Homo sapiens: one gene and its partners. The protein of the gene in region 7 interacts with the protein of the main gene of each other region in a biochemical or structural test. Each region holds a gene or a part of one and is shown on either strand. Other genes may lie near its edges.

What was found.
Region 1: the proteins of LMNA (region 7) and URB2 form a complex in vitro, tested with the Homo sapiens proteins (one study listed by BioGRID).
Region 2: the proteins of LMNA (region 7) and ENG interact on a protein array, tested with the Homo sapiens proteins (one large-scale study listed by IntAct).
Region 3: the proteins of LMNA (region 7) and TMPO interact in far-western blotting, tested with the Homo sapiens proteins (one study listed by BioGRID).
Region 4: the proteins of LMNA (region 7) and LEMD2 interact in far-western blotting, tested with the Homo sapiens proteins (one study listed by IntAct).
Region 5: the proteins of LMNA (region 7) and MLIP form a complex in vitro, tested with the Homo sapiens proteins (one study listed by BioGRID).
Region 6: the proteins of LMNA (region 7) and ANXA1 interact in a test that uses a peptide from one of them, tested with the Homo sapiens proteins (one large-scale study listed by BioGRID).

What each region holds. Positions count from the first base shown.
Region 1 is NC_000001.11:229,657,247-229,660,700, forward strand, and holds the end of URB2 (unhealthy ribosome biogenesis protein 2 homolog), read left to right. Parts: intron 1-1,853; coding exon 1,854-2,051; 3' UTR 2,052-2,954; downstream 2,955-3,454. UniProt on the Homo sapiens protein: Essential for hematopietic stem cell development through the regulation of p53/TP53 pathway.
Region 2 is NC_000009.12:127,844,659-127,848,158, reverse strand, and holds part of ENG (endoglin isoform 1 precursor), read left to right. Parts: intron 1-1,023; exon of another isoform or gene 1,024-1,216; intron 1,217-3,500. UniProt on the Homo sapiens protein: Vascular endothelium glycoprotein that plays an important role in the regulation of angiogenesis. Required for normal structure and integrity of adult vasculature. Regulates the migration of vascular endothelial cells.
Region 3 is NC_000012.12:98,543,090-98,546,589, forward strand, and holds part of TMPO (thymopoietin), read left to right. Parts: intron 1-1,140; coding exon 1,141-1,260; intron 1,261-1,352; coding exon 1,353-1,448; intron 1,449-1,861; coding exon 1,862-1,972; intron 1,973-3,269; coding exon 3,270-3,358; intron 3,359-3,500. UniProt on the Homo sapiens protein: May help direct the assembly of the nuclear lamina and thereby help maintain the structural organization of the nuclear envelope. Possible receptor for attachment of lamin filaments to the inner nuclear membrane.
Region 4 is NC_000006.12:33,779,131-33,782,630, reverse strand, and holds part of LEMD2 (LEM domain-containing protein 2), read left to right. Parts: intron 1-1,477; coding exon 1,478-1,554; intron 1,555-2,451; coding exon 2,452-2,531; intron 2,532-3,500. UniProt on the Homo sapiens protein: Nuclear lamina-associated inner nuclear membrane protein that is involved in nuclear structure organization, maintenance of nuclear envelope (NE) integrity and NE reformation after mitosis.
Region 5 is NC_000006.12:54,121,443-54,124,942, forward strand, and holds part of MLIP (muscular LMNA-interacting protein), read left to right. Parts: intron 1-4; coding exon 5-160; intron 161-3,030; coding exon 3,031-3,423; intron 3,424-3,500. UniProt on the Homo sapiens protein: Required for myoblast differentiation into myotubes, possibly acting as a transcriptional regulator of the myogenic program. Required for cardiac adaptation to stress through integrated regulation of the AKT/mTOR pathways and FOXO1.
Region 6 is NC_000009.12:73,165,365-73,168,864, forward strand, and holds part of ANXA1 (annexin A1), read left to right. Parts: intron 1-732; coding exon 733-828; intron 829-2,132; coding exon 2,133-2,191; intron 2,192-3,500. UniProt on the Homo sapiens protein: Plays important roles in the innate immune response as effector of glucocorticoid-mediated responses and regulator of the inflammatory process. Has anti-inflammatory activity.
Region 7 is NC_000001.11:156,128,211-156,131,710, reverse strand, and holds part of LMNA (lamin), read right to left. Parts: intron 1,885-3,500; exon of another isoform or gene 1,862-1,884; coding exon of another isoform or gene 1,803-1,861; intron 1,095-1,802; coding exon 938-1,094; intron 1-937.

The DNA of each region.
Region 1 (3,454 bases), about 74 Mb from region 7:
TGTTTTATAAATAAGTTATCTGAAACCTAAAGATTTAAAGTGGTTGTGTTGTCTAAAACCTACTGGCCTTCTTACTACCCCCAGAGCTCTTTGCAAGAGGCTGTCTAGCTGCATTTTCACTACTGAGAAACTGTGTAAGTAGTTCAGAGCATGGGCTCTGGGCTCAGACTGCCTAGGTTCAAGTCTTAGCGCTGCCAGTTATTAGCTGTGTGACTTTGGGGAGGTCACTGAACCTCATTTTTTGCCTTTGGAAGTGGAATTATTTATTTAGTAAGTGATAATTAAATGAATGAACAAGTATGAATAAGTAGTCCACTTACAAAGCCCTCACCCTGCCAGTATGATCAAGGACTTTGTGTTTTTGTCTGTTTTTCGTTTTGTTTTGTTTTTTTCTTTCCCTCCCAATTACCTTGCTGTAAAATTCACAGACACGCCATTCTACCTTCGGTCCTTGAGTGTTGCTATCATCTATAAAATGGTAAAATTTAAGATGATCACTTGTCAGAAATTTCTGAACTATTACATGAAAAGGATCATAACTTTGAAGAGTAGCATCGTCTGAGAGACAGAAACAAATTGCCTCTTTAGGAATGTACTTCCCAGTGGTTGCCTTCGTGAATCAGTTCTTCTGGTTAATAAAATATGTCCTCATTAGAAACTGTGTTTGCAGAGACACATTAACCCTTTCAGGTTATCAGGGTAGCAATAAATGATCAGCCAAATTCCAGGCCTGTCTGCTGATGCTCTACCACTGCTTTGGTTTTTTTCTACTTCTTAAAAGTAATGGCAAAATACATCTAGTATAAGGTGAATTTTACCAGCTTAACTGTTTTATGTGTGCACTTCAGTAGTAGTATATACATTCTTATATTGTGCAGCCATCACCACCATCTGTTCCCAGAACTGTTCATTACTACTGCTTTTTAGTTTCAGTTACTAGGGTTTCAAACTCTGTTCAGCCCACATTTAGTTGAAACCTGAATGGATGTGGTAAGTGTGAAGAGAACCTGTTCCCCCAGCCTTTTAGGTTGGTTTGATATTAGTCTGAGTCTCTTCTCTGGAAGTTTGGGTGGAGCATCAGATACAGCCAGGTTGGAGCTGGCTGCCACCCACACTCCTGTGCTCCAGATTTTAGGTAACCCTGAACTTCAGGGGAGAAGTGCATCTTTAGGGATGAGGACCAGTTCAACCATTCCAGGGCTGTTAGGAATTAAGTGCATATTGTGCTGTTCTTGACATAAATAAAAAAGGAATCTATTAAATGGCAATCATGAAATCACTTCTGCTCTTGGGTGATATGATGTGATCTAATTACTAGTGTAGGCTTATCAGTGGTCTGTTTTGGTAGTTTCAGAGCCTGCCTGCTGCCTTGCTCTGGGGTGAGATGGGGGTCATAGTGTTATGGTGAACGTAGTTGTCATTGTCCCACAGGGTTGGCATAGCTTCCAAGGTGATTGACGGTGTAGAAGAATTTGACACAATGGGCAGGCAGCTTATCTTCTTATAAGGTTTTTAAATTTAAAGACTCCAGTTTTTTAAAATGCCCCTGGTAAACATGTAAGCATCATTTACTGAACAGCAAAGCCAGCCTTTTGCTTTCATGGAGTTTTATTCCAGGTTTGTGTTTGCTTGAGTTAGCTTCTATTTCCCCAAAATACAAACTTTAAAAATATGAGTATTTAAAGGTTTGACTTAGTAATAAAATTATATTTTAAAAGTGAATGTCGATTTTTTTCTCAATTTGGAGGTCAGTTTGAAATTACTTGTTAGTGCTTCCCAAGGCATTGTTGGCAGGTGGTGCGGCTTGATCTCTGCCCCCAATTGTTCTCACAGAGGTTTGCCTTTTTCCTCAGGTGACCTTATATCCAGCTGTGAAAAGTCTGCTGCAGGAGGGCATTTACCTCATCCTGGACCTCTGCATCGAGCCTGACGTCCAGTTCCTGCGGGCCTCGCTGCAGCCGGGAATGAGAGACATCTTTAAGGAGCTCTATAATGACTATCTCAAGTACCACAAGGCCAAACATGAAGGAGAGAAAAGATATACGGCCTAAGGCTATGGGACAGAAGTGCCGCCAGTGACACTGTCCAGAGGCTTTGGCTGCATGGTCTGAAAGAGCTGGAGAATGAAAGACTTAAGATGTTCTAATTCGTAGTATTGGTATACATAGAAAATCCTTTGGGGTTTATGTAGTATATTTTGATGTATTTTACATCGTGTTTTTCTTACTATTTTTTAATACATAGTTTTATGCAGTAAGTATTGCAATAGAATCCTGAAAATTGACCCTGGGATGAGATTAATTCAATAGAAAAATTGCTGACTCTTGGGACCTTTCTGTGTTTGGTTCTCGTCTTGGCTCAGTGGTTTGGTGTTCCCTCGTCTGCACTGGAAACTACATAAAACTTGGCTTTTTACTTTGGGTACATGGGCGTATAATTCAGCCCTGTTTAAATATACTTGCCTTTCAAATTCTTCAAGTAACATGGGAAGTATTCTTGAAATGTCACATTTTCTGCCTTCCCTCTAAGTATGCTTTCTGAAGAAGTCAGGGAAAGTTAGAGTCTGTGGCCTGAGGTGTCTGCTCTGGGTGGCGATAGTGGGCACCTCAGGCAGGTCGGTGACGTTTAGCACAGGTGCCAGGGCTCCTGCCTGCTCCTCCTGTGTTAGCTCTGTGAAGTTCATTTAGGAATTTTTTTTTCCTATGCAGTTTAAGAAATAATCCTAATTGTTTTTTCTTATTACCTAAGCAATATATTTTTATTATAGCAACCTCAGAAAAGAAAAATAAAAGGATAATTTAAAAAACTCATTCATAGTCTCAGTTACCCAGATAACCTCGGTTGTCACCTTGGAGTATCTTGTTGTAGTCCCTTTACTATGTGTATGTATATAGATGTGCATATAAATATATATAGTAGCTAAATTGGATCATAAATGCATTTTTTTAAAGTTACCTTTTTTCCTGTGTAATATTTTAAGTAACTCTGGGTCAGTGAAAACATTCGACATATATTTTTTTTGGCTGCATAGTAGTCCATTGAGTAGATATTGTTGTTTTATTTAATAAGTACACCATGGTTAGACATAGGTATCTGTCCAAATTCCCTTTTATAGATGGTGCTTGCAGCTGAATTATTTTCAGAAGATGAATTCTCATGAGTTGTATTATTTGTCAGAAAACCACATCATTTTTAAAGGATTTATATAAATATTGCCAAATTGCCCCCTAGAATATTACTAATTTATTTTCCTACTAGTGAGTCAACTTTAATATTATTGATTTTTGTTTCTTTATGCTTCCTTGATAGGAGAGAGATGTTATTCTGTTTTGAATTTCTTTAATTACTAAGAGATTATACATTTTTCACATTTACCATTTTTATTTCTTATGTAAATTATGTTTATATAATTATCTTTCTTCTGTAATAGCACATTTCTCAATTGGGATATTTA
Region 2 (3,500 bases), on a different chromosome or scaffold from region 7:
CCAGTTCCTGAGCAACCCCCACTTAGCAGGAGCCGGCCTAGCGCTGTGCAGGTGTAATTTACTGGCCTGCTTGCCGACTCCATGGGAAGCTGTTATGATGACCCTCATCCCCATGTTACAGATGAGAACACTGAGGATGGAAAGGCAGCTGGCAGGTGGAAGAATCAGGACCTGAACCTTTGGCATCTGTCAAATCGCTGTGCTTTTCACCTCTACTGTAGGCTGCAGTGCAGGAACTTGACCCTGCAGGCATCGTAGAACCAGGGGGGAGCCCGGGGCCAAGGCATGCTGAGACCTCCTGGTGGCTGGGGGCAGTGGCTGGGCTGGATGCTGGGAAACCTGTGAGGCTGTAATTGGGCCTGAAAAGGGTAAAGAGTGGCCCGGGGGTACTGAACAAGACGGGGCAGGCATTGCAGCAAGAAGGACCCTTGTTGAAACGTATCTTCCTTGGGAGGCTGAGATGGGTGGATTGCTTGAGCCCAGGAGTTTGAGACCAGCCTGCGCAATACGGCGAAACCCCGTCTCTACAAAAAATACAAAAATTAGCTGAGTGTGGTGGTCCACTTGTAGTTACTCAGGAGGCTGAGGCATGAGAATCGCTTGAACCTGGGACGGGGAGGTTATAGTGAGCCGAGATCGAGACACTGTACTCTGGCCTGGGTGACAGAGTGAGACTCTATCTCAGAAAAGAAAAGGGGGGGTGGCAGCGGGAAGAAAAGTATCTGTCCTAGTATGATGAAATAATATTCACAGCTTCTGTGTCTGGGGCACCTACTTAGTACCAGGCACTCAACAGGGGTTACCCCATCAAACTGACACACTCAGCCTGTGAATGCCTGCTGCTTGCTGGAGCCAGACTGTCTGGGTTTAAATCCAGGCCGTGACACTTAGTAGCTGGGTCACCTCGGGCAGCTGGTCTTCAGTTTCTTTAACCGCCCTGGTCTTCAGTTTCCTGGAGTGTGCATGGGTGTAATAGCGCCGCCCACCTCACAAGGCTGCTGTGAGGATCAAATGAGTTCACTCGTGTAAAGCTGCCTAGGCTCCCAGTAAGCATGATGGGAGCATCTGCAGTGATTATTGGTGGTCTGCAAATGGGGAAACTGAGGCTCAGAGAGGTTAGGCTTCTGCTCAAGGTGACCAGCATTTTAAGAGGCAGAGCTGGGATTTGATCCAGGCCATCTGGCTCCAGAGCTGTTTTTCTTGATCATCCTCCAAGGTGCTGAAGGTAGCCCTCTGGAAATCTGGGAGGTGCTGTGTGCACATGGGTGGCGAGGGTGGAGAGGGGACAGTGGTGGGAGGTGGCTTCTGGGTCTCTCACTTGGGGTTCCAGTCACCCAGGCCCCCAGCGGCTCCTCCTCTGACCCAGTCCCGGGAGGCCCTGGCGTTTCCCTTGGTGCCAGGGGATTGTTTTCAACTTGGTCTGGGCCCGCCTCAGGCTCCGGGAGACAGGCCCAGGCGTCACACTCCCTCCTGTCTCCCCATTCTCGTCTGCGGGGTGGGGGCGGCCAGGATTCGAAAAGGCCCCAAAATAAATGGACCTCTTATCTGATCTCCCCGCCAGGCCTGTTATCTGATCATTACATAATGGCCAGGCTTGTGGCCTCTCCCGCTGGCTGACGGCATGGAGGAGGCGGCCCCAGGCGGCCCCAGCAATCCGGGAGGAACTGGGGTTCCTGGAAGTCTGGGGAGGGGGCAGGGAAAGTCCCAAAGGGAAGGAGGGAGGCGCTGCGATAATCTGCAGGCCAGACACTGGGTCATGTTGGGAGACGCGGGTCCGAGGCCCGGCCTGGTCAACCATGTGCTGTGAGACTTTGACCTGTCCCGTCCCTCCAGACCTCAGTCTCCCCATCTGAGTAGGAGGGGCTTAAGCTAGGTAACAGCCAAGGAACCTGCGCTCACCGATGAGGAAAGGAGAGGGTGGGGAGAACATGGGGGCTGGTGGGTCAGAGGGACTGGAGACAGGAGATGGCACCAGCCCTTGATTTTGTTGGGGTGAGGGAGATCCCAGTGACCTCTCCATCCCAGAGGACCGTCACCTGGAGGCCACCCCATCCCGCCACTTCACCCCACCCCTTAGAACAGTCAATTCTACAGTGACTGAAGTCAGTCAAATAATTGTAATTAAGAGAAAGCTGCCGGCCAGGCATGCTGGCTCACTCATGGTGGCTCACACCTGTAATCCTAGCACTTTGGGAGGCTGAGGCGGGAGGACTGCTTGAGCTCAGGAGTTTGAGACCAGCCTGAGCAACATAGTGAGACCCAGTCTCTACTGAAAATTTAAAAAATTAGCCAGGCGTGGTGGCGCACAACTGTAGTCCCAACTACTTGGGAGGCTGAGGCAGGAGGATCGCTTGAACCCAGCAGCTCAAGGCTGCAGTGAGCTGTTATCACACCACTGCACTCCAGCCCAGGAGACAGAGGGCAACCTTGTCTGAAAAATAAACAAATAGAAATTTAAGAAAGAATTGCCATGTGCCCAGTCTCATGGAGTCCTCCCAGCCACCTCTGTGGATCATGTGGGCTCTGTTGTCATTTTATAGACCAGGTATTGAAGCCCCAAGAGGTGAAATCATTCACCAGAGCCACATAGCTGGTAAGCATTGGGCCTGAGAGGCAAACCAGGTCAGCCTGGCTCCAGGGAGCTTGCTTTTAACCAAAATGCCACTATGTCCAGGCACTCCAGAGTCCCTGGGACATGTAGGATAGGGTCAGAGAGACGACATATAAGGCCTGGGCCCCCGTGGCAGCCAGAAGTCCTCATCCAGATCTTCTCCTTCCCAAGACAGAGCTGGGAATGGCGTTGCCATGGCAAGGGGTGACCATCTCACTTCCTTTGCTGACTTCTGGGGCCCAGAGCCCAACGTGCTGTGGGAAGGTGAGGAAGGAGGCCGGTGAGGCTCCAGACAGCCCAGGGTTCAGAAGAAGCCTCCCTGCCCCCTCCTCTGAGCCGGCCTTGGCTGGACATGAAGCCAGTCTCTCCGCGCCCATCTTTGATCTCCAAGAAAACAGGAAGTGAGCGCGACAAGATGGAGACACAAACTTCCAAACAGTCTCCCCTTCTGTCCTCCTTCCCTCCTCCGGAGCCCCCTTCCCCCGGCACATTCCTCAGGACGAGGTGTAGGAGCCTCATTTCCTTTTCCGACCCTGCTGGGTCAGGGTGAAATTCCATTCCTTTCCCTCAGGACCTGTGTTTCCGGGCTCTGCGGTCTGCTCTGGCAGCCTCCAAACCTGGGCCGCCTTCTCGGCTCGCCCTGTCCCTTGGGGCTAGGGAACTCTCAACCCCTTCAGACCATTCCTCCCACCACCTTGAGGCAAGAGAGGGGAAGCTTTGTCTCCTGAGCTCAGCTCCTGCCTTACCTGGAGGGAGACTTGGGTTCACACCTAGGCCCTGCCATGAAGTTAGGGTTGCCAGATACATCAAATGAAAATCAGCCGGGTGTGGTGGCTCATGCCTGTAATCCCAACACTTTGGGAGGCCGAGGTGGGAGGATCTCTTGAGT
Region 3 (3,500 bases), on a different chromosome or scaffold from region 7:
GGTAGTATTACATCCAGCCATTTAGGCATATTTATTGGATGACCACTCCTGTCACAGGATTAAAGTTTAAAAAAAAAATCTGTCTTTAATAGACATTGACTTGGACCTAAAACCATCAGTAATCTAGGTTAAATATTGGCGTGAAAGCAAAAGTGACAACAGAAGGACACTCTACTATAATACTGATCATTGATGGATGTTCTGTAGTTAAAAGAATTTAAAAGAATCATCTGGTAATAGCGACTTCAAAACTGAAAACCTTAAACTACTTGGAATGCGGAATTTCGGGCCCTACAGCTACAGAATCAGAATCTGCATTTAACAGAAGCTTCAAGTGATTGATAGGCACATTACAATTTAAGAAGAACTGATCTAATGGGTTTTAAACCAGTATGTAAGAAATGCTGGATTCTTTAAAAATGATCAGTGGAACATAGAAATTAATCTGAGACTGAGAATTAATCTGAGGCAGCTGTTTTCTGTCTTTCTGTAGTGACATGGATAGCATTGAGATTTGAAAGTGACGTTAGGCTTGCATATTCATTAAAGAGTGACCACAGGGTTTTTGTGGCTACCTAATTTTGTATCTGTTTCCAAGAAAAATTTGACACCTGAGAATTTTTTAGTTCAAATAAGCTATATGTGGGATTATAATTTAAACTGATTCTACTAAAATGATTATAACCATATGAAAATAATAATGTTTATGCTAACAATTACAAAAGTTTGTATTTTTGTTTTAAAAGGAAACTGACTTATAATAGATGACTTTTTTCTAAGTCATGATCAGTCTGCTTTTTGTTTAGACAGAGATGTAGCTCCAATACTAGAGCCAAATAGCACACAGTGAGTCAAAAAGGGAACTGGTGATAGTTGATGTGCTTTTTTTCCCATAATGTTTATAATTTGTGAGCTACTATAGGTGGATTCTTTAGTGTATTTTAGCACTTTTTAAGTGTTTCCTGATGCCTAAATATCAGTTCAATTAATACATTTAGGAATATTTTGAGGACATAGCCTTGTTTGTAAATGCTGGCATTTGGAGACTTCTATTTCATGGCTTCTCAGTGTGCCAGTATGGCCGTTATTAAAGTATTTGATGTTAGAATATGACTTTTTAATGTGTTGATGCTTGAATAGAGCTATTCTCAAGCTGGAATAACTGAGACTGAATGGACAAGTGGATCTTCAAAAGGCGGACCTCTGCAGGCATTAACTAGGGAATCTACAAGAGGGTCAAGAAGAACTCCAAGGAAAAGGGTGATGCAAGGCTTATTCCTTGGGTTTTCAGATTTGTAGGGTTTTAGTATTATTTTATATTTATTGTTTTTGTTTTGTTTTCAAACTAACAGGTGGAAACTTCAGAACATTTTCGTATAGATGGTCCAGTAATTTCAGAGAGTACTCCCATAGCTGAAACTATAATGGCTTCAAGCAACGAATCCTTAGTAAATATGTTTCATAAACTATACAAGTGGTATTCTTTGTAAATTACCCTTTAATTGGAAATGGGGAGGTGGTGAATTTTGGCAAATCTCAAATTTACATGTTTTTTTTTTTTAACAATTTTAAACTGATTTTCCCCATATAGTTCTGAATTTTAGAATTTTCCTATAATATCCAATTTATGTAAAGAAATCTAATTCATTGTACAAGAAAGTATAAGGATATTTTTTGTTAAAATATTTGAAGAATGAGGCTTCATATGTGAGGCACTAAGTTGTGTTTGTAGGCTGTGTTGCTTAAATCTTTACTAAGGGAAAATTTCTAATATTACAGAGATAAAATATCTTTCTTTTCTTTTTAAGTGTCTGTGTTATGTTTGGATAATTCTGAGTCTGAATAATTTGAATCTTGGCAGGTTGTCAATAGGGTGACTGGAAATTTCAAGCATGCATCTCCTATTCTGCCAATCACTGAATTCTCAGACATACCCAGAAGAGCACCAAAGAAACCATTGACAAGAGCTGAAGTAAATGAATACAATTTAGATCGATGCTATCATTGATCTTTCAAAGAGGAAATATAAATATTTGTTTGTTTTTTTTTTTTTTTTTTGGAGTGGGAGGGAGCAGAGCTTTCTTTATTGGGTGGTGTGTGTAAATATGCATAAATTATTTTAAGGACACTTTTATTAGTGAAAACAGAAATTAACTAATATAGTTTGACATGCTAATACTATCCTCTTGCCACTGTATCCCTCTTAAGTTCCAGTTTTCAAGGGAGTGGTCATTTCTGTTCTGCTTATAATATGTTCTGTTTGTCATGGATGCAAGTTTGAAAGTGCTGCTGGGCTATGAGGGAGGCTACACTTTCTTTTGTTGACGGGTCAAATAAGAGACTTTAACATAACTTCATGTGGTGCTGGAATGGGTTAACTCCTGTGTAATTAAGCTTGAAAGTACTAACTGCATGGTGCATTTTAATTTGAATGAATCTTTACAAAAGGAGCCGAAACATTTATTATTTTGTTCTGGACATAAAGGTAAACAGTAAAACAAGCTAAACATTATATTTTTTTTAATTTGGGCATATTGCATTGACTATAATTTTAAAACATATAGTAAAGTTTGCTAAAGGTTCATGTTAAGTATCTTCTGTATTTTATCTTTTACTACAGAATTCTTAATAAATGAAGAAACAGTATACTTTTTTTTTTTTGAAACGGAGTCTTGCTCTGTTGCCCAGGCTGGAGTGCAGTGGCACGGTCTCAGCTCACTGCAACCTCCGCCTCCTGGGTTCAAGCGATTCTCCTGCCTCAGCCTCCTGAGTAGCTGGGATTACGGGTGCCCGCCACCACGCCCAGCTAATTTTTGTATTTTTAGTAGAGATGGGATTTCACTATGTTGGTCAGGCTGGTCTCGAACTCCTGACCTCAGGTGATCCACCCGCCTCAGCCTCCCAAAGTGCTGGGATTACAGGCGTGAGCCACCGTACCCGGCCCAACAATATACTCTTAATAGTAAAAAACAAAATCAATGAGGGAATTAGCATTGCCATGTTAGATTACTGAATTTTTTCCCCCCAGTTATTTAAATGTGTGGCAGTTTTTCACTCCAATAACCACATATATAAGGTATCTTCAAGAAATTTGAAGAGAGCCTTGGAAGCATGTGGATACCTAAATAATAATTTAGAAATGGCAGCTGTAAAATCTATGATAGATTTAAAGGCATTTTGTTCTCTAAAACTTACTATTTATGTTTTAATTATTGCATGTTTACACTAAATTTTAACTTGTGGTTGTTTGTTTGTCTGTTTCTTATTAGGTGGGAGAAAAAACAGAGGAAAGAAGAGTAGAAAGGGATATTCTTAAGGAAATGTTCCCCTATGAAGCATCTACACCAACAGGAATTAGGTATTCAGATACATTTAAACAAGTACTAGTGTATTCTAGTAGGGAATCTTTATTTTTAATTCTTCATCACAAAGTTACTGTACTTCTGCTCAGAATTAAGCTGTTTTTTTGGAGCCAGGTACAATGGTACATGCCTGTAGTC
Region 4 (3,500 bases), on a different chromosome or scaffold from region 7:
AGGCACAATGCCTTTTAGCTGGAGCAGTCAGGAGAGCGTCACAGGAGGTAGCATCTGTGCCAGGCCCTGAAGCCCAGGTAAGACTGGTTACATGTATGTGGGGAAGGACAAGGCAAAGCGGCAGGAAATTACATCTCGAGTGGGAAGCAGCACCTTCATGGAGGAAGGGGAAGATGAGAGAATGAAGTTTGGAAGTGTTGGTTGGGCCCTACCATAGATGGCCTTGGATGCCAGGCCACCAGAGCTTGATCTGGCAGGCAGTGAGGGCCAGAGAGGCTTTGAGCAAGGGAGTATCATGCTGAGAGCCAGGTGCCAGGAAGGTGAATGCGGCAGCAGCTTGAGTAGCACAGTTAAGCAGAATCATTTTCAAGTGTTATTGACAAAACAACTGGATTGGGAAAGGGAGAGGAGGAACCGAATCGAGAGGCCATCTACGTGGTCCAGGCAGGCCTGGCAAGGGCAGGAAGAGTCCTAGTGGGAAAAGGAGGATGCTAGAAGCCACCTGTGTCTCAGGGGACCCCTGGGGTCAAGATCAACTTTGAAGTAGGAGGATCTGGCTGTGTTAGGGGAAGGCGACAGGCTTCAGTTCAGTTTCAAAGTTTTAAAATATGACCTTCAGCTGCTCCCTTCCCCAGCATGCAGAAACACACTCACTGGCCACCCGAAGTCCCCCAGGCTGTGCTGGGTCAGGGCAGTCAGGCCACGCACACGTGTTAAATAGTGTATGCGTGCGTGGCCCTGCACCCTCCCTGCTCTCGGGGAGTCAGGCAAACCACAGCACAGGAGCGAGGACCAAGGGCTATGGCAGGTCACCAAATCTGGGGCCATTTCATCAAACAAAAGGCCCCCAGGGGCTGAGGGCTTCCCAGGGGAGATGGCCCCTGGGCTGGACCGGGGAGGTTGGGCAGGACTAAGTGGGAGGCTGCCAGCTCCATCCTATGGGAGCAGGCCTCCAAAGCCACTCGGGGGAGCTGCCCCTTGGCGTGCTGTGCTGAGGCCCCACTGCCCAGCACACAGACATCCTCTTCCTCCAAGGGGCCCCTCAAGACAATAGACCTGGCATTCCAGGTCGCCTGCCTGTGTCATGAGTCAGAATCCCCGTGGTGCCCATGGCCTCCCTGCCTTTCTTTTTTCTCAGGCTGTGTTTATTTATAGTGCCATTCCGGTACCTTCCGAAGCTATCTGTCTGATTCTTTTAGGGATCAATTGCAAAGAGACCTTGCTATTGGGCAGCTTTTTAGTCATTTAATGCAAAATGCCACACTGCTTTGCAGGTCAGGTTTTAATGATCTGGAATCGATCCAAGCTAAGTGGCTTTTGATCTTGCTGCAGAGTGAAGATGCCCCACAGAAGCCAGGAGCCGCTGGGCAACATGCTCCTTATTAGAGCTGATGGCTTGATTCTTGCTGCATTTTTTAGTCTGTTTCAGAGTGATTTTTCCTTTGTGTTTGAGCATGTGTGGTTTTTTTTCTCCTAGGTAATTTTGAGTGTGGAAATCCAGAGAATCTAAAAAGCAAATGCATTCCTGTTATGGAAGCCCAAGAATATATAGCCGTAAGTAGGCTTCAGTGCTTATACATTCCTGGGAGGGCCTGGTGCTTTCCTATTGGTCTTTCAAGCCCTGTTGGGGTTTTTGTTTTTTGTTTGCTTTGTGGCTTTTGTACTAGGCTACCTTAAGTTAAGGTTTGGTTTATGGCTTTTTGTGCTAGACTACCTTCAGTTAAGGCAGCCATGGTAGTGACTGCCCCAGAGCCAGGCCGCCATGTGCAGTGGGGCGGCTCACTCCTGACTGCTGCACTGTAGGTGTGCCTGTTACCTGCTTCTCCCTTGGTTCACTTTGCTCGTCTTGCCTTCGGCTTTCAGGAGAAACATGCTGTCCCTTCTCCCCCGTATGATTACCATTCAGACTGCCCAGGGGCCGTCTGATTTCCTGTGTGGCCTCAGGATGGTAGATTATAGAACTATGGAGCTGGTATTCCAGGTCGCCTGCCTGTCCAGTAACTTAGGGGTCATCTGGTTCCATTTGCATTTCACAGATGAAGAAACTGAGGCCTGGAGAGGGTCAGGGACTTGCCTGAGGCCAGACCACTTGCACCGGCCACTGGGCTCACCCACCCCCAGCCACAACGCTGTTATTCGCTTTACCCTAAGATGAGCTGCCAGCTCTCTGGCCTGATGCTTCCATCCTCGAGAGAATCATATTCTTTTGGCCGCCTCAGACCCGCACTGTTTTCCTGCTTGTGCTTCCGCATCACCTCCTCTGGTTATAGCCTCTTCCTTGGCTTTCATCAACCCCCGATTTCCTTCCTGCCACTTTGCTGTGCTTTTAGCAGAACAGGGTTTTGGGGCTGTGGAGGACACGGGAGAGGGCTTCCTTAATCCAGCAGCAGAATAATGTTCCAGCTGCTCCGCCCAGACGCCGAACTAACCTTCTCCCGCGCCCTCCCACAGAATGTGACCAGCAGCTCCTCCGCCAAGTTTGAAGCCGCACTGACCTGGATACTGAGCAGTAACAAGGACGTGGGCATCTGGTGAGTGTGGGCAGGGTGGCGACGCAGCATGGGTGCCTGCAACCACTGTCCTCGCTCGTCAGCTAACACCCGTGCTCCAACAGAGCTGTCTCAGGTCTGAAGCTGGAGGCTGGGTCTCCCAGCAGAATCATGTGGGTTAGGATGGAAGTGGGGCAACAAAAGCAAGAAGCATTTGGAATGCAGTGTAAGGAGCAGCTTCAAGATGAGACACAAAATCCAGGTGTTAGGATGTTAGCCTGGTGTTCCAGCTAAATCCTGTCTCAGGTAACTCAGTCTGTGCCTTTCTCATTCATCAACAACACCACATGGTTTGTTGGGGAAGGCATTTTTCTGCACTTCCCCTCCTCGGGAGCTAGTTTTTATTTGTAGATGAAATTATTCTTTCTGTATGTTGGTTTTACTTACTATGGAAATCGCATAAGGAAATACTGGATTTTATTCTGACCAGGCAGTTTCTGCCTCATTTTTATCACTGGTGAGCACTGTTAGAAAAGGTAGCAAACCCTTTCATGAGGCTGAAAGGCTGTATCTGGCGGCTCAGCCCAGGGGGAGGGGCGTGTCAGCCAACAGCCAGGCAGCCTTGAGAGACCTGTCCCCTGCTGGCAGAGCAGCATCACTTCCCCACTTCCCACTCTCGGTGTTTGTGGGGGTCTCTGTTCAGGTTATAGCTCTTGATATTAAAACGTCTCTAGAGTTTTGTTCTTTTCCTCTCTAATCCACCCAAATTACTAATTCCATCAGCACTGCATCCAGCAGAAGCCCCTCGGGCAGCTCCACCTCAAGCTGGATAACTGGATGCATGGCACGATTAAAATTTGTTGGCTTAAAAAAAAAAAAAAGCTGCCCTGAGTAGCTGAGCAATTTTCCTGTGTTAGAAAAGGCGGAGGAGAATACGGATTTTATCCTCAGCAGCAGCGCTCACTGAAGCTGCTAACACAGAAGAATGATGACACTCACCTTTTCATGTTG
Region 5 (3,500 bases), on a different chromosome or scaffold from region 7:
ATAGGTCTCTGCTGGTGGTTCTGAAGCCAAACCTCTGATCTTCACATTTGTCCCCACTGTCAGAAGACTACCAACCCATACTCAGTTGGCTGACACCTCTAAATTCCTTGTTAAAATTCCAGAAGAATCAAGTGATAAGAGTCCAGAAACTGTAAATAGGGTAGGATTATTTTTATTCTTTTTTAATTTCAAACAATTATATTAAATTTTGATAATGATGACTTGGAAATTTGTGTATATTTCCTGTGCTTAAATTAAGGTGACTGTGACTCTAAGTTTGACTAAAAATATAATAATGCAACAGAAGCATAAATGTTATCAAATTGCATGTTCTCTCTAATGCATTATCTTCAATTTTTTTCAGTTTGACATCCTATTGTTTGCTATTGACATGACAAATTCTGCCTCCTGGCACATTCTCTCAAATGTTTCTTAAGAAAATAAAAACAAAATTTAAAAATGTTTAAATTTATCTCAAAAGAAAATATAAGACAAAACAGTGAGATATTATTATTTACAGGTAATGAATTAGCAACATTAAAAAATGTAATACCTGATGTTGGGAAAGTTGTGGAAATATTGGCATGCTTACACTTTGCTGCTGGTTTTGTAAATTTATACAATTTTGGTGGAAATACTTTATCTATAGTTATAAAACTGTTTATAACCTTTCAATAATCTAACTCTTTGAAAAGTATCCCAAGGAAATATTACAAAAGAAGAAAAATGTTATGTAGGTAAATAATTAGGGAAAAATAAAAAATGCCTAATATCTAACAATCAGAAAAGTTAAGAATATAATAGTACCTCACTTTGGCAAAGTTATACTGATGGTAATTAGATAATTCCATGGAAAATGTTAACCTTACAATATTAGGTGATATAATACTGTGTTCATATCTTGATTGTACCTATCTAAAATGAGACCAAGATGGGAAGTGAAATTACACAAATTTAAAAATCTTGAAAATAACTTGTGTTAGAATAACAAAATTTTGAGTAAAAATGTTTTTCTCTTTAAAATGTGTTTTAACATTGCTTACTTATAAATAAAATGAGATTGGGGCAACTTTGTGTTATTCTTGACACAATTAGAAAGGAGTAAAATAATCAGATTCACCTTGTCTACAAGAAAACATCTTATCTAGAAAATAGTAATATTTCCATGATCCTGGGGTTTTCAATGCTGCTATCTTCTTTCAAAGACTAATGGGGCCATGAATACTATATATGGCACTTCTAGATAGTTTCTTTCCTACAGCACTCATTTACATAATATTAATGAGATCCTTTGTAATTAGGCCTTATGAGTGGTGTGAGACTGTAGCTACATAAACCAACCTTGGTTGCAAGCCTCCAGAGCTTCCTAAGATGATAATATTTATCTGCTGATTGCAATGATATATATACAACCACATCTTTAAAAGATTTTTCACCCTATCTCTTAGACAGTTCAACATTAAAATAGTGTAATTCCTCATTCATTTATATTCTTTTTTTTTTTTTTGAGACGGAGTCTCGCTCTGTCGCCCAGGCTAGAGTGCAGTGGCGCGATCTCGGCTCACTGCAAGCTCCGCCTCCCGGGTTCACTCCATTCTCCTGCCTCAGCCTCCCGAATAGCTGGGACTATAGGCGCCTCTGCCACCGCGCCCGGCTAATTTTTTTTGTATTTTTAGTAGAGACGGGGTTTAACCTTGTTAGCCAGGATGATCTCGATCTCCTGACCTCGTGATCCGCCCTCCTCGGCCTCCCAAAGTGCTGGGATTACAGGCTTGAGCCACCGCGCCCGGCTTCATTTATATTCTTAGCAACTGTTTACTGAACATATGTTATTCTCTTGATGATTGGATTCCAACTGAATAAAGACAATTCATATAGCTTACTTGTTATCGGGAAGGCAGGCAATGAAAAAAATGAAAAAAGTATGTAATAAAATCCATATAGTGATAAATACAATGAAAACAATATCAGAGTAAATAGGGAAAGATGGGCAGAGAAATTTTAATCAGAGGCAATTTGTGTTTTATCCTGACTATATCCTCATTATCAGCTGAATAATGTGGGTGTATAAAATCAACTTTTTAGTTATATTTAATCAGTGATTTGACTTCTGTCTTCATACATACAATACATGCACACACAGTACACATTAAATTGACCACCAGAGTTGAAATTATTAGCATATTTTCATTTAGTGGCATAACTCTCTATTTTGAAATAATTTTAGCCTTACAGAAAAGCTGCAGAGAAAAGAATAATAGTAACCATAGTGTAATAATAAAAATAAGAAAATTAACATTGGGTCTTTTAAACACAATCTCAGTATACATGGCTGTCATAGTTTTAGAAAAAGAAGTTTGGTAGCTTGATAAAGCTATCTTGATCCTGGTCTTGTAAACTATGTATTCACAGAAAATTGGATGGGAAAAGACTGAGAATTACAAATCCAAAATAAAACAGTGAAAGATGCTTTGTACTAAAAATATCTGCATCTTTTTTGGTGTTCTATTTATGAGTTCTCCCTAATTAACTTAGATTGTTTTGTCTGACTATGCATTTTGCCCAATTTTATTTTTCCTTTCAGATTTTTAGAGAGATTTTGTATTATTTTAGAAACTTTCAATGGGGATTTCCTTCCTCCCTTGGCTTTTAAAGGATATACAGTTTGCTTCACCATTAACTAAACCCTTGCCCAATCCCCATTTGTTTCACAAATGTCTTCACGGAAAACATTGCTCTCTCCCTCTCTCTCTTTAAAATGTCGTATCATGACTTACTTGAAAACAGTTAGGTTTGCCTGTTGATGTTGATTACTATCCCAAAATTGTTTGGGCTTAGACCAGGAAAAACAGGTGGGCTAGTGGGCTAGTAAAAATAAACTGCTAACTTCAACCCAATCTCTTTCTTATGTCAACCTAATTTAATATATTTTTGAAAATATAAGGAGGTTAAGCTTTTCAGTGTACATGCCAAAAAAGAAGCATTTATTAAACTAATGTCAATGCTTTTATCTCTCTACATCTATTACAGTCTAAATCCAATGACTACTTGACCTTGAATGCTGGGAGCCAACAAGAGAGAGACCAAGCGAAATTGACTTGTCCTTCAGAGGTCAGTGGAACGATTTTACAAGAAAGGGAATTCGAAGCAAACAAACTTCAAGGGATGCAGCAAAGTGACCTCTTCAAAGCTGAATATGTCCTTATTGTGGACTCCGAAGGGGAAGATGAGGCTGCAAGCAGAAAAGTTGAACAAGGCCCCCCAGGGGGGATTGGCACCGCAGCTGTCCGGCCCAAGTCTCTAGCTATCTCGTCCAGTCTGGTCTCTGATGTAGTGCGTCCCAAAACACAGGGGACTGATCTCAAGACCTCATCACATCCTGAAATGCTTCATGGGATGGCCCCTCAGCAAAAGCATGGGCAGGTAGGTTTTGTGTTCCTGCTGTCCATAAGGAAAAAAAAAGCGTTTATGCACCCTTTGTCTTGGGCGGTCTGCAAAGG
Region 6 (3,500 bases), on a different chromosome or scaffold from region 7:
GTCCAATTTTGTACAGCCGCTACTTTATCATATTTAATACATTTTGTGACTTGGGCATGTGGAACATAATTTTGTTATTTTCACTGCTTTTACTCCCCTAAAAGATTTGGAATATGTGTGGGAAAAGACATGCATAACAGAACAAATGAAATTAGAATGAAGAAAAACAAAAAAAAAAAAACAAAAAACCCTCAGAGCTAAATGAAGAAAGAAATATGTAGGTGCTTTGGAAAAACAACAACAAGACAAAACTCAGAAAAAGTCCTGGCCTTTGAGTGCAAGATTTAGCTCTGGGCCTCTTGGAAGTGAAGGCGATGGAAAAGTTATGACAATTACCAAAGTTCACCATCTTATAATAGTATACTGATTTCTACTGTTAAATGTAAGAGAAATTTAGTGCACAGGTCTTTATATAAGGGAAGATCCATTTGCTGTGGCTCTTAGAACTGCTGTAGGAAGTGCTATAGTTGTCAATCACATGCCGTTTCTAATAACTGTCAACATTTGCAAACATTTCGCCAAAATATATAGGAATACCAAAATGGCCAGGTAAGTTACATTCCTAGGAGAGGATGAAGTATTCACGTTATGATTAATTGGGTATATTGCTTTAAAAGGTGTAGCCAAAGTTGTTATTCTAAAAAATTCTTTGAGTCAGTTGCCTTGATTTTGCTAAAGCTTTCTAAAGAAAAGGATGTTTTGCATGTATCTTAGTTTGAATTTAATATTCAGTGTTTCAGAAATACACCAAGTACAGTAAGCATGACATGAACAAAGTTCTGGACCTGGAGTTGAAAGGTGACATTGAGAAATGCCTCACAGCTATCGGTATGTAGTCCAGCAGTTGAAAGAGTTTTCTAACTAGAAATTGTATTTTCAAAGCTATCCTATACTTAACAAGAACAACAGCAACAAAACCAATAAAAGAAAACAAAAAACAATCAGAAGTAGTGCATCTGTTTCAATTGAAGCAACGTAAAAGATTGGCAAAGTACTATAACCTTAATAACAATAGATATTATTCCCCTTTTCAAAAATAGAGAGAGATAGACTATACTTATTGAGCACCTACTTATATCAAACAATGTACCAGGCTGGGCACACCACAGAGGCAATTCAGAATGGTCACTGAGAGCATGGGATCTGGAATAAATGTAACATCTGGATAAATGTAACTTCAAGTCCTGGTCTACTGCTTGTTAATTGTACAATCTTGGGCAGGTCCAGGAGAGTCTGATTCAGTGGGTCCGAGTTGGCCTCTAAAAATCGGTACTTTTTAAAGATCTCCCAGGTTATTCAGACAACCATCAGGGTTGGGGAACCTATGTTCTCAAGCAGTGTTTCTCATTCATGACTATGCACTTGAATCCCCTGGAAAGCTTGTTAAAATGCAGATTCTGATTCCCCAGGTCTGGGGTGGAGCTTAGATTCTGCTTTTCTAACAAGCTCCCCATTGATGCCAATGCTGTTGGTCCATAGATCTCGACAAGATGAAGAACACTATGAACTGGAATGTGCTAGTATTATTTGGGTTCTGTTTTATATTTAAGCCCATCCTATCCCAGAGTTTTTTCTTCATTTATTCATTTATTTTTACTTATTTGTTTGTGCAACTCTTACTTTAGACACAGAGGTACATGTGCACGTTTGTTCCATGGGTGTTCTGCACTCAGGCAGTGAGCATAGTACCCAATAAGTAGTTTTTTGACCAATGCCCCTTCTCTCCCTGCCCTCTCTAGTAGTCTGCAGTGTCTGTTGTTCATAGGGTGTTCTTTTTAAATGTTCTTATAGTAACATAAATAAAGTATTTACATAGGCTTGAACACCTAGTGGCTTCTCCACTCCCAAGGAGAATATATGTTGGATAGCGCAAACTACTGAAGTTGCTCTTGAGATGTATTTAAGGTAATAAAAAAATTGATCGTCAGGGAAAAGAATATTCAAAACCACCATCTAGAGAGTCACAAATACCTTCTCAGAAGTTAACTGCCCTATATTGGGAGATGAGAGGTGAAGAATGATGATGAGGGATAGAACACTGTTGGCAAAATTCTATATTTCCTGTTTCTTTCATATGGATATTTCATTTTTTTCATGGTAAATACATCAACTAAAATTTTCTTCTCTAACAGTGAAGTGCGCCACAAGCAAACCAGCTTTCTTTGCAGAGAAGCTTCATCAAGCCATGAAAGTATGTACCATTCTACTTATATGTCCTGCTTAGAGGAAGAATTATTTGTAGAAAGAACAGAAAACCTCATGTTGTTTGAAAATCTCACATTTAATATCTTCCCATTAATGAGAATCATTGTTCTATTTGATGAAAGAGGTAATACACTACCTTCTCAGAATAAACTTCTGTTAGATTCGGTGCTTTTTTTTACAGATGAGATTGTAAAGTGAGCCTGTAAGTGATTTACGGCTCACTTGTGATTTGCTTAAAACATGTGTCACCACGGGAAGGGTGATGTACTTTCTTTTTTAACGTGTAATTTTAGTGGCCTACTTCCTCTAAGGTTGTGAGTTTTATAATCTCCCACTTTATGAGTCTGATTTGTTGTTTTTATTATTCTGTCTTTTATGCCACAGATTAATAGTTGAAACTTTTGAAATGTCATTCTATGATTAAGGATGTAGAATGATGTATTTGAGATCAACTATGTCACTTTAACTTTACTGTCTGACATGCATGGTATTATACAAGGTACCTCTTCTATTCTGACATTTTGAGCCCACAAATGAATAGTTATGAAGTTATCTTCCTTTTTTCTTTGCAGCTCCAAAATAAGGAGGTTTTCAGAGAGAGAGAGAAAGAAAGATCTAACTATTTGAATAATATGAAGGAATATTTTGAATATATATGAATAATTTGAATAATATGAAATGATAGACATGCTAGGTACTGCTCTGTAGTGGTTAGCATAGTTGCTGCCCCCTTTCTGCCATAGTCTAGTGTGATATTTCGTTGGGTAATGATGAATACCTGGTGCCATGGAAGAGAAAAGTGGGACATATACTCCAGACTTTGGAAATCCAGGTAGCATTGCTGTCAGCTAAATTAACACCTGAAGTTTAAATAGAAATGAGCCAGATGAGGGCAAGAGTGGAAGAGATGGGGATAAAGCAAGGGTGGTCCAAGAGGAAGAAGTAACCCACACACAGGCTTGAAGGCAAAAGGTAACATAACCTTCTCAAGACAGTAAGTATAGAGTGATGGTGCACACTGGAAGAGATGGTAGAATTAGGCAGGATATTGTAAGCCTTGAAAAAGAATTAGGCAGGATATCGGAAGCCCTGATTAGATTCTATCCTAAGAGCAACAGAAGATCACTGACAGTGTTTTAAATAGATAGACTAGTTTATTAGATTTGCAGTTTAGAAGTTCCCTTTTTTTGTAATTATTGGACAGTGTAGAGACCGGATGGTGAGAGATGAGTTAGGAAGTTGTGACAGCTCTCTATACCTACCGCTAATGTAGAGGATTATTTATTTTCATTTCA
Region 7 (3,500 bases):
ATAGGAGGCCCTTGTATACCGGAGGGCCAAACTGGGAGGGATCTAGGGTCAGGTACAGTTCATTGCAAAGTTAAGTAGAAATGGCTTGTGGATTATTTTATTTTATGTATTTATTTATGTAGAGACAGGGTTTCCCTCTGTCACCCAGGCTGAAGTGCAGTGGTGCAATCACAGCTCACTGTATCCTCGACCTCTCAGGTTCAAGCCATCCTCCTGCCTCAGCCTCCCAAGTAGCTGGGACTATAGGTGCACACCACCATGCCCAGCTAATTTCTTTAAATTTTTATTTTCTAGAGATGGGGTCTGTGTTGCCCAGGCTGGTCTCAAACTCCTGGACTCAAGCAATCCTGCCTCCTTGGCCTCCCAAAATGCTGGGATTACAGGCATGAGCCACCACACATGGCCTGGATTATTTTTATTATTATTATTATTATTTTTTTGAGACGGAGTCTCACTCTGTTGCCCAGGCTGGAGTGCAGTGGCATGATCTCAGCTCACTGCAAGCTCTGCCTCGCAGGCTCACGCCATTCTCCTGCCTCAGCCTCCCGAGTAGTTGGGACTACAGGCGCCCGCCACCATGCCAGGCTAATTTTTTGTATTTTTAGTAGAGACGGGGTTTCACCATGTTAGTCAGGATGATCTCGATCTCCTGACCTCGTGATCGGCCCACCTCGGCCTCCTAAAGTGCTGGGATTACAGGCGTGAACCACCATGCCCGGCCTCCTGGATTATTTTAAATTCACTGTGGTAGATCCCATTGGCAGCCAAATTAGGATAAGATGTGACCTCAGTGGGTAAAATGACTCTAGGACAGGTGAATGGCTCTGAAATCAGGTGACAGGTCAGACCAGGCACCACATGGGGGAGGGCCTAGGTAGAAGAGTGAGTGTACATGTGTTAGGTGGGGCCATGGGTGGGCCCTGCAGGGTGGCCTCACCTTGGCCACCTGGCCCCGCAGATCATGCAGCTCGCCCTCCAGCGTGCGCTTCTCACTGAGAGCAGTGCTCAGTGCGGCCTCCTTGGAGTTCAGCAGAGCCTCCAGGTCCTTCAGCCGAGCCTGAGCAGCTATCAGGTCACCCTCCTTCTTGGTATTGCTAAAGAAGAGAGGGGAGAGTAGATTTAAGAGAAGGAGTCTGTGTGCCTAGACAGTGCCAGGCTCCCAGGAGGTCAGCCATGGGGGCTGGCGCTGCTATGCCTGCAATTACCAGGAGAGGGCATCCTTGCATTAGGTTGGTTTGCATCTGCTTGCCTCTGGGGCTGGGCTCCCACCTCCCCAAGGTCCTTGAAAACCCCCTTCCTGCTTCTCCACCCTTCCCATGACTCAGGGCTCAGGAACGTGCCTGGGGCCAAGGGCAGAGCTCTACCCCGTGATATGAATGCTTTTCCCTCTCTCTCCTCCCATTCTTTCCCAAAGAGACAGGGGTACCTTTGTCTCCTGCCCCTTCCCACACAGGGCCTTACTTAGCCTTCTCCCTGGACTCTACTCACTTCCCTTTGGCCAAGCTTCCCTCCCTCTGAGGAGCCTGACAACTAAGCTCATGGCCCACATGTCCCTAGCACTTCTCGATCTGAGCCCCAAAGGTACTGGTCACCTCTCCTAGTCCCTTTTACACATGTGGGACTGTGGGGAAGGAAAGTCTGGTTAGAGCTCAGAGGGACCTCAGACAAGGATGACCAGGCACAATATTGACCCTTTCCTTTCTCAGGACCCAGTCTGGGTGCCCTGATCTGCACTGAACAGAGGGGTCCCTGCCTCCCTCCCTCCTGCCTCATCCGTGCCCTGGGAGAAGGCTGAGCCCTACCCATCTACCATAGCCTCAGCATCTGGTTCCAGATGTGGATCCCAGGCCTCCAGGTCCATCTGGGCCCCAGCTTTAAGCCTCCCTGCTCCTCAAAGTGGGTAAAGCTTTAGCTATAACCAGTCGAACAGCGCTGCCTCTGCCACCTCCCTCACCTTTTCTGGGCCCCTGATTATTTTTGCTAGTGGACTGGAGAAATAGAAAGGTCCTATTTTCTTAAAAACCTCCAGAGAACCCAAGAACTTTCTAGATGTTACAATTGCTTCACAAATATAGGGTGAGAGAAAGCAGCAGACCCAGGGAGCGGAGGGAAAGATCCAGAGGACCTGGTTCCAGCTGCCATCTGTAACTCATCAGTGCTTAAGCATGAGCCCACCACAGCAGATGGAAAAAAGGAAAACCAAGCGTGGGCAGAAGGAAAAATCTATCCTGGAAAGGAGAAAAGCAGCCCTGCCAACATTTTTCTTCTACCACAAAAGTCCTAAACTCCAAGAGGCCCAGCAATTCACTGTGAAGAGGGATAGGGAAGGCTAGATTTGCAGAAGCTCTGGAGGACGAGACCCAGGCAGTGTTCTGCTTAGGAGAGTCCAAAAAAGGAGTCACCCCCACCTCCCCCCACCAGGCAGGGAGGAGGATAGAGTGACACTCAGAGGGGCAGGGGAAGGACATGAGAAGCCAGAGGAAGCTCCCCCAGCCTGCACACTTGCTCAGTCCAGGCCTCTGGCCACACCTCAGAACAAGTTGTTTAATGTAAGTGTCTGTCTCCTGCAAAAAAGAGCCCCTTCCAGAACCGGAGAATGTATTCCCTCCTCTGTCTCAGTCAGAAAAGCTAAAAATAAAGTCAAAACCCAGCTCAGGTTTTGGCTGCCATCCGGCCTAGCCCCTGGCTGGGAGCACAGCCCCAACTTTCCATGACTTCAGAACTTTTCCGAAGCTGAAGCAGCTGCAGGGGGAGGAGGGAAAATGAAGAAAAACCGCTGGTAAAGTGAAGCAACTGGGGCAACTTAGATTCCGAGCTCCTTGGGCTGACCCCCAGGCTGGCTGGGGCTTCCCAGAAGAGGCCTCTCTACCCTGAAGGCTAATGGCTGCTGCTGGCTGTACTAGGAGGCTCTCAGAATTTAGAGAACTAGAAGGAGCTTAGAGTTGATTCAGCTCAACCCTCTCCCTTTTATAGATGAGGAAACTGAGGTGCAAAGGAGGAAGGTGAATGGCCCAGTGTCAATTACCGAAAGCCAGCAGCAGCATTCCAGTCAATTCTAGCTGCTGATCTAGGGTTCCTCCTCCTCCACCTCACTGCTTTCCTAAGCCACAAGTTCCAGAGAGAATGGAGAAGCCAGGAGGAGGAAGAGGGCAGACACTATGGCACAAAGCGTTTCCCTGACCAGCCAGCCTGAGCTGAAAGAAGCTGGAAGGCAATGGGATGATTTCAGAAGGTGTCTCAAGGGCACCTTTTCCCTAGTCCTGTCTCCCCAGCCTCCTTAGGTGCCAGGAGGAATTCCTGGAGTTCCCCCTGGTAACAGCCTTTCCTTGCCAGTGCCTGGCAGACACTGACTGAGGAAAACATAGATGCATGATCCCTGTGCTCTGCGAGCTTATGGGCTGATGAGCACAGAAGTTTTTTCTTCAGTCTAACCTCTTCACCTTCTGCTGCTTGCAAAAGCGGTGGTGGCAGTGATAATAATAATATAATAGCAAACACTT